Regions from separate parts of the Homo sapiens genome. Here region 1 is linked to region 2. Evidence: fine-mapped expression QTL. A gene starts in region 2. The other region holds a variant in brackets. All regions are shown on one strand. Distances are between the middles of the regions. Region 1 overlaps AP2B1 (adaptor related protein complex 2 subunit beta 1). Region 2 holds the start of PEX12 (peroxisomal biogenesis factor 12).

Evidence for each region. PIP is the estimated chance that this variant, and not a neighbour inherited with it, causes the effect. A credible set is the group of variants that fine-mapping cannot tell apart.
Region 1: its variant is the best candidate, but not a certain one, in a credible set for the expression of PEX12 in lung (TOPMed, PIP 0.81).

What each region holds. Positions count from the first base shown.
Region 1 is chr17:35,598,873-35,601,792 of GRCh38, reverse strand. The region is part of intron 3 of AP2B1 (adaptor related protein complex 2 subunit beta 1); the gene reads right to left. Among named protein-coding and RNA genes, the nearest start is that of AP2B1, 13 kb to the right of the region's middle. The variant T/C (reference allele first, on the strand shown) is at 1,686.
Region 2 is chr17:35,577,551-35,580,470 of GRCh38, reverse strand. It overlaps PEX12 (peroxisomal biogenesis factor 12), which reads left to right and starts at 1,900. Exons shown (of 3, transcript NM_000286.3): 1 at 1,900-2,575; 2 at 2,880-2,920. The coding sequence starts at 2,450. RefSeq lists an enhancer at 1,821-2,636.

The DNA.
Region 1 (2,920 bases), 21 kb before region 2:
AAAAAAAAAAAAAAGAGTTATGACAATTTTTACCAATTCGTTTGTACTGATGTTTTCAATCCAGATTTATTCTTTGGCAAAAACAGCCCTTCAGTGACTAGACAGATCACAGATAGGCAACTACCGCCTGTGGGTTAAATCTAGCCCAATGCTGGATTTTTGTACAATCCATGAGCTAAAAGTGGTTTTTATAGATGAACTAAGTGTTCATCTATATGAATCTTGGCCGGGCATGGTGGCTCATGCCTGTAATCCCAACACTTCGGGGGGCCAAGGCAGGCGGATCACTTGGCGTCAGCCAGGAGTGATGGCAGGTGCATATACAGTACCAGCTACTCAGGAGGCTGAGGCAGGAGAATCCCTTGAACCCGGGAGGCAGAGGCTGCAGTGGGCCGAGATTGCGCCACTGCACTCCAGCCTGAGTGATGGAGCAAGACTCCATCTCAAAACAATAAATAAATAAAACAAATCTGATGATGAAAAATACTATGAATCCTAATTACGCAAAATGTTATCATCCCCCAAAAAGAATCCCACTTAATAGTATACCTGTGGTACAAAACATTATACTTAACTATTATTTTATTTTGAATATCCTCAATAAAAAATTTGTGGAAATTTGTCTTCTCTCTTGTTATGTAAGTACCTACCTACCAAACTCAATTTTGCCTCTTTGCCTGCTAAGCAAAGAGTACTTACTATGCCAGCCTGATGTACTTACTATTTTGTCCTTTACAAAAACGTTTGCCAACTCCTTAGATAGATGGTCACAGGACAGCAATTTAAAAACCAAATGTGCTTTATGTGCTAACAAACAAAAGAAAAATAACAAAAATTCACCTCAGAAGAGCAGCACCTGGAGCAAGAGAAGATACAGAGTCATTTCCTACGCTGCCATTTCTATCTGGGCTCCCCGTCTGGTTAGGGAAGCAGCCCTCACCTTTTTGGTCTCGGGATCCCTTCATACTCTTAAAAATTACTGACATCCCAAAGAGTTTTTGTTCATGTGGGTTATATACCTATTGATATTTTACCATGTCAGGAATTAAAACTGAGAAATTTTTAAAAAGTTAATCCATTAAAATAAGAATAAACCCATTTCATAACATTTTAAAGGTAAAATGTACTGTTTTTAAATTAATGAGATGGTGACACTGCTTTTTTATTTTTTTGCAACTCTCTTTAATATCTACTTGAAATAAAAACAGCTAGATTCTCATAAGTTCCTGCATTCAACCTTTTGTAGAATGTTGTTTTGAAATATAAGAAGAAAATCCAGCTTCATACACGTATATAACTCGGAAAAGGAAATAATATTTTAATAGCTTTTTCATATAACTACATATTCCTTATTTTCTTTTTTTTTTTGTTATAACTAGAAATTCTTGATGTTACACTAAAACTAGACAGCCCGGGAACAGTGGCTCATGCCTGTAATCCCAGCAGTTTTGTGAGGCCAAGGCAGGTAGATCATTTGAGGTCAGGAGTTCGAGACCAGCCTGGCCAACATGGTGAAACCCCGTCTCTACTAAAAATACAAAAATTAGCCGGGTGGTAGTGGTGCACGCCTGTAATCCCAGCTACTTGGGAGGCTGAGGCAGGAGAACCGCTTGAGCCTGGGAGGCGGAGGTTGCAGTGAGCCAAGATAACGTCACTACACTCCAGTATGGGTGACAGAGTAAGAC[T/C]CTGTCTCAAAAAAAATAATGATAAATAAATAAAACTAGACAAATGGTTGTTTTCCTCTTTCTGAGTCCACACACTGTAGTTTCTTAAAAGTTAGTTGCAATATAGAATCTGAAGCCGTATCGATAAACTTTTTGTACTTGATTGTATTAAAATCCATTCATTTACATTCTATTTTGTTTTTTTGTTTTTTGATTTTTGAGACAGAGTCTTACTCTGTTGCCTAAGCTGGAGTGCAGTGGCACAATCCTGGCTCACTGCAACCTCCGCCTCCTGAGTTCAAGCAATTCTACTGCCTCAGCCTCTAGAGTAGCTGGGATTACAGGCACATGCCACCATGCCCGGCTAATTTTTTTGTATTTTTTTTTAGTAGAGACAGAATTTCACCATGTTGGCTAGCCTAGTCTCGAACTCCTGCCCTCAAGTGATCCGCCTGCCTCGGCCTCCCAAAATACTGGGATCACAACCGTGAGCCACCACGCCTGGCCTCCACACTTTATTTCGAATAGATCTTTTATCCATGCATAATTTTGTGATATACATATGCTCTGGTCATTTGGAAAAATATTGGTTCACTGAGCTATGCTGACACATTTCATTATAAAACAGCAAATAATCACAATCATTAATTTCACCACCAATCTCCTCAGAAAAGTCTTTAAGCATTAGGAAGCTGTCAAGCTTATGATGGGAGATACAAATTTTCCAAAATTCTAATTTTTTACTTTAAAACCTGAAACGTATCCATTGTCAATTTTTTTCCCTTGAAGTGACAGGTTCACTTTGTTCATTTTTGAATAAAATATCTCCCAAATACCAAAGTCTGATTAAATATAGTTTGTCTGTCAATCATTCTTTCACATAAAAATGGTGTTTGCAGTTCAAACAACTGCACAAGGGTTTTTTCTCAAGTCGACCATTGCACTGCTACGCAGCAGAAGAGATTTATGGGTAATCCCTATTTCATCAAACACAATATTAAAAAGGTTCAAGTTTTAATAAAACAAATTTTTACTGCTCATGAAGGACATTCCTAAGTGAAACTGCTCTTTTTTAGCACATGGTGTTAAGGAATACAATGACTACCATTATGGTTGGCACCACTGCCTTCATTCATGCTGAGGCACCAGCAGTTTTACCCACCACTGCTTTGCACCATCACTGTAAACATCCAAATAGTGAAAAAGGCAAGTAACATCTAAGTATTATTATGAAAACAGCTTTGACCTCACGGACC
Region 2 (2,920 bases):
TCCGCTTCCAGGGTTCAAGCGATTCTCCTGCCTCAGCCTCCCGAGTAGCTGGGATTACAGGTATGTGCCACCACACCCAGCTAATTTTTTGTATTTCTAGTACAGACTGGGTTTCTCCATGTTGGTCAGGCTGGTCATGACCTCTTGACCTCAGGTGATCCACCCGCCTCGGCCTCCCAAAGTGCTGGGATTATAGGCGTTCTTATGCCATACGTTTAGTTAACTTTTGGAGTACTTCCATGGGACTATCAATCAAGACATCCTGCCTTCCCCTGGCTAAGAGTGAAAGACAGGGTGGAGAGGGAACTTGAACCAAGAGAGGTCAGTCAAAATTTGTATCACGAGCAGAGTCACAAACAGAAATTGGTGGAAGCTCGTTCACTGCAACAACGTTGCCTGGATAAGAACTTCTAATTCCTGTTAGGCAGTCCCAATAGTATTGTTAAGTTCCTGTTCTTTCAGGGCTGGCTTTACTTATTTTGTGAGCTACTCCATACACTTCTAATAAATTCCGTTTTAGTTTAAATTAGCCTGTTTGTTTCTGTTGCTTGTAACCAAAGATCCCTAAGTGACAAAAATGTTTAATTTCCTGCTTGATTTAGTTGATGCTACCTCTCAACTTTGTATTTTTGCTATTCACTTAAGAAAAGCTTGTACATAACAGTTACTATTAAACAAGCACCTAATATGTATCCAGGTGCTTCATATGGATAAACTATGTCTAGTCTTAAAACTCTGTAAGGTAAAAATCATATATCAATATAATGTCTTTTGGTAGAGTAAAAAACACTTTTTATAACTATAATTAAGGACAATTTGTAAGGTTTTCTCTCCTATTGGAATAACTAAATCCAAACCTTGTTTTTGAGGGTTCTCATTATGCAAACCAATTATTTTTATAACATAAGGGCCTCTAGGGCAGTAAACAATACCTTCTATTCCCAGCTATTTAGCCCAGAGGTGGCACTTCCCAGAGGAAGGGAGGAGAGGTGGAACTCTCATCCAAATTCAATAAGGCTGTGTCAGCCAACTTCAGCGAGACAAAGCTGTACATAACATAAAAGCACTTTACAAACCTTAAGGTAAATCACATTCATTTTGGTATAAAAACGGCATGAAAGGAAACTTTCTGTCAAGTGTCCCCAGTGCATGCTAGTTACAATTCATAAAGCTCCCTCTGCGTTAGTACTGTATTCATATCGCTGGTGGTGACATATACAACTGTGTTCAAGGATGGAGACCATTTTCATCCAGTATAGCAAGTGCATGCAGTTATGCTTGAATATAGCCAAAACCTGGAAGACGTTAAACTACCAGCTTGGATGAAAATTAACCGTCTCAAGTACTGAGGAACAAGCATGAACCTTTCTCAATCCAATCATCTTTCCTTATAATTGGCGGCAATAAATCTAAGGCTCCTATCTCCTGCTATGTCGCTTTAAATCATTTCTGGAAGGCTAAGACATATAAATTAACCACCATCCCTGCCGCACGCGTACAGCAAAGTCCTTTCCACCTCCAGATTCCCTTCCTCCCACCGCCCCTAGCTTCATCGCCTGCAGGAACACAGGGCTCAGCAACGGGCCCGAGCTCTGGCTCCCGGCGCCAGACGTCTGCGCGGTGCCCCAAACAGCTTGTCAAAAAGACCTCGCAGAGAGAGGTTCAGAGCTGTAGCTTTCCAGCGAGGCTACCATGCAGACCCAGCTACGAAAAGTAAACCAAACTAGCCAAAACCAGCCCACAAGGGCCCTCTTCTGTTTCAGCGGGGCGGGAGCGGAAGCTCAGGTGGGTCATAGAGTTCTCTAGTTCTGGTTTCCGGACCGCATTCGGAACTAGAGCGCCTCTCTTCCGCCAGGCATCCCAGAGGTCCTGGTGGTTTCATTTCCGGGTGCGGCTTCTGTCATAAAGCGGAGACCTCCCTTCAAACGTGGCGTCGTGGGTTGTTTGCGCCTCGCCTGGGGTCAGCGAGCAAGGACGGGCGCGGGCGGGGATACTCAAAGCCAACAGCTGGAGTCAGCCCTTGTGTCCCGGGCTCACAGTGGCACGACTGAATCCTCAGAGTCGGCTGGCTTTTGAGCTCTCACGATTGGGGAGGAGGGGGCGTTTCTGGTTCGCAGCTCCAGAGGATTGCGTTCCTTCCCCCATACCTGTCCCCCACAGTCACGCTCTGCCCTGACGTGCAGCATTTGACAAGTTACCCCCTCGCCACATACTACTTCCACCCACGTCCGAGTTAACTTTGTTCTTAACCTTCTTGAGACTACCCTCGGCCTCCAGGTCTTTTTTTCCCAGTTCATTTTTGCCCATAAGATTGAGTTTCGAGTTTCAGATATCATGCAGAAAGTTTACCTTTAAGACTGAGCACCCATCTGATACTCTTCCTCCCGAAAAAGTTCATGCTCACGAGAGAGTTTGTGGGAAAAGTGAAAGCCAGTACACGCAGGAAACTATGGCTGAGCACGGGGCTCACTTCACAGCTGCTTCTGTGGCCGATGACCAGCCATCCATCTTTGAGGTGGTAGCACAGGACAGTTTAATGACAGCAGTGAGACCCGCTCTTCAGCATGTGGTCAAGGTAAGGTATTAATTCTTGGAAAGGTTTTAGGGACAACTGGGTAAAAAACAAACGAATAATTTGTGCTTATTTGGTAGCCTAGCGTTTGAAATAGCCAATTTGCAAATAACTTGTATCCCATGACTTAAGAGTTACTGAGTCTCTGTTATGTGTAGAGACCTGTACTGAATACCCAGCATTTCAGGGTCCAACAGTGACTTATTTAAAACAAATTGTGTAGACTTTAGAGGAAAAGGGGGAATGTAAATAGGTGTAGAACTTGTGTAATGGAATGAATTTCACTTATTGCTTTATTTTGCTTTAGGTTCTTGCAGAATCAAATCCCACCCACTATGGCTTCTTGTG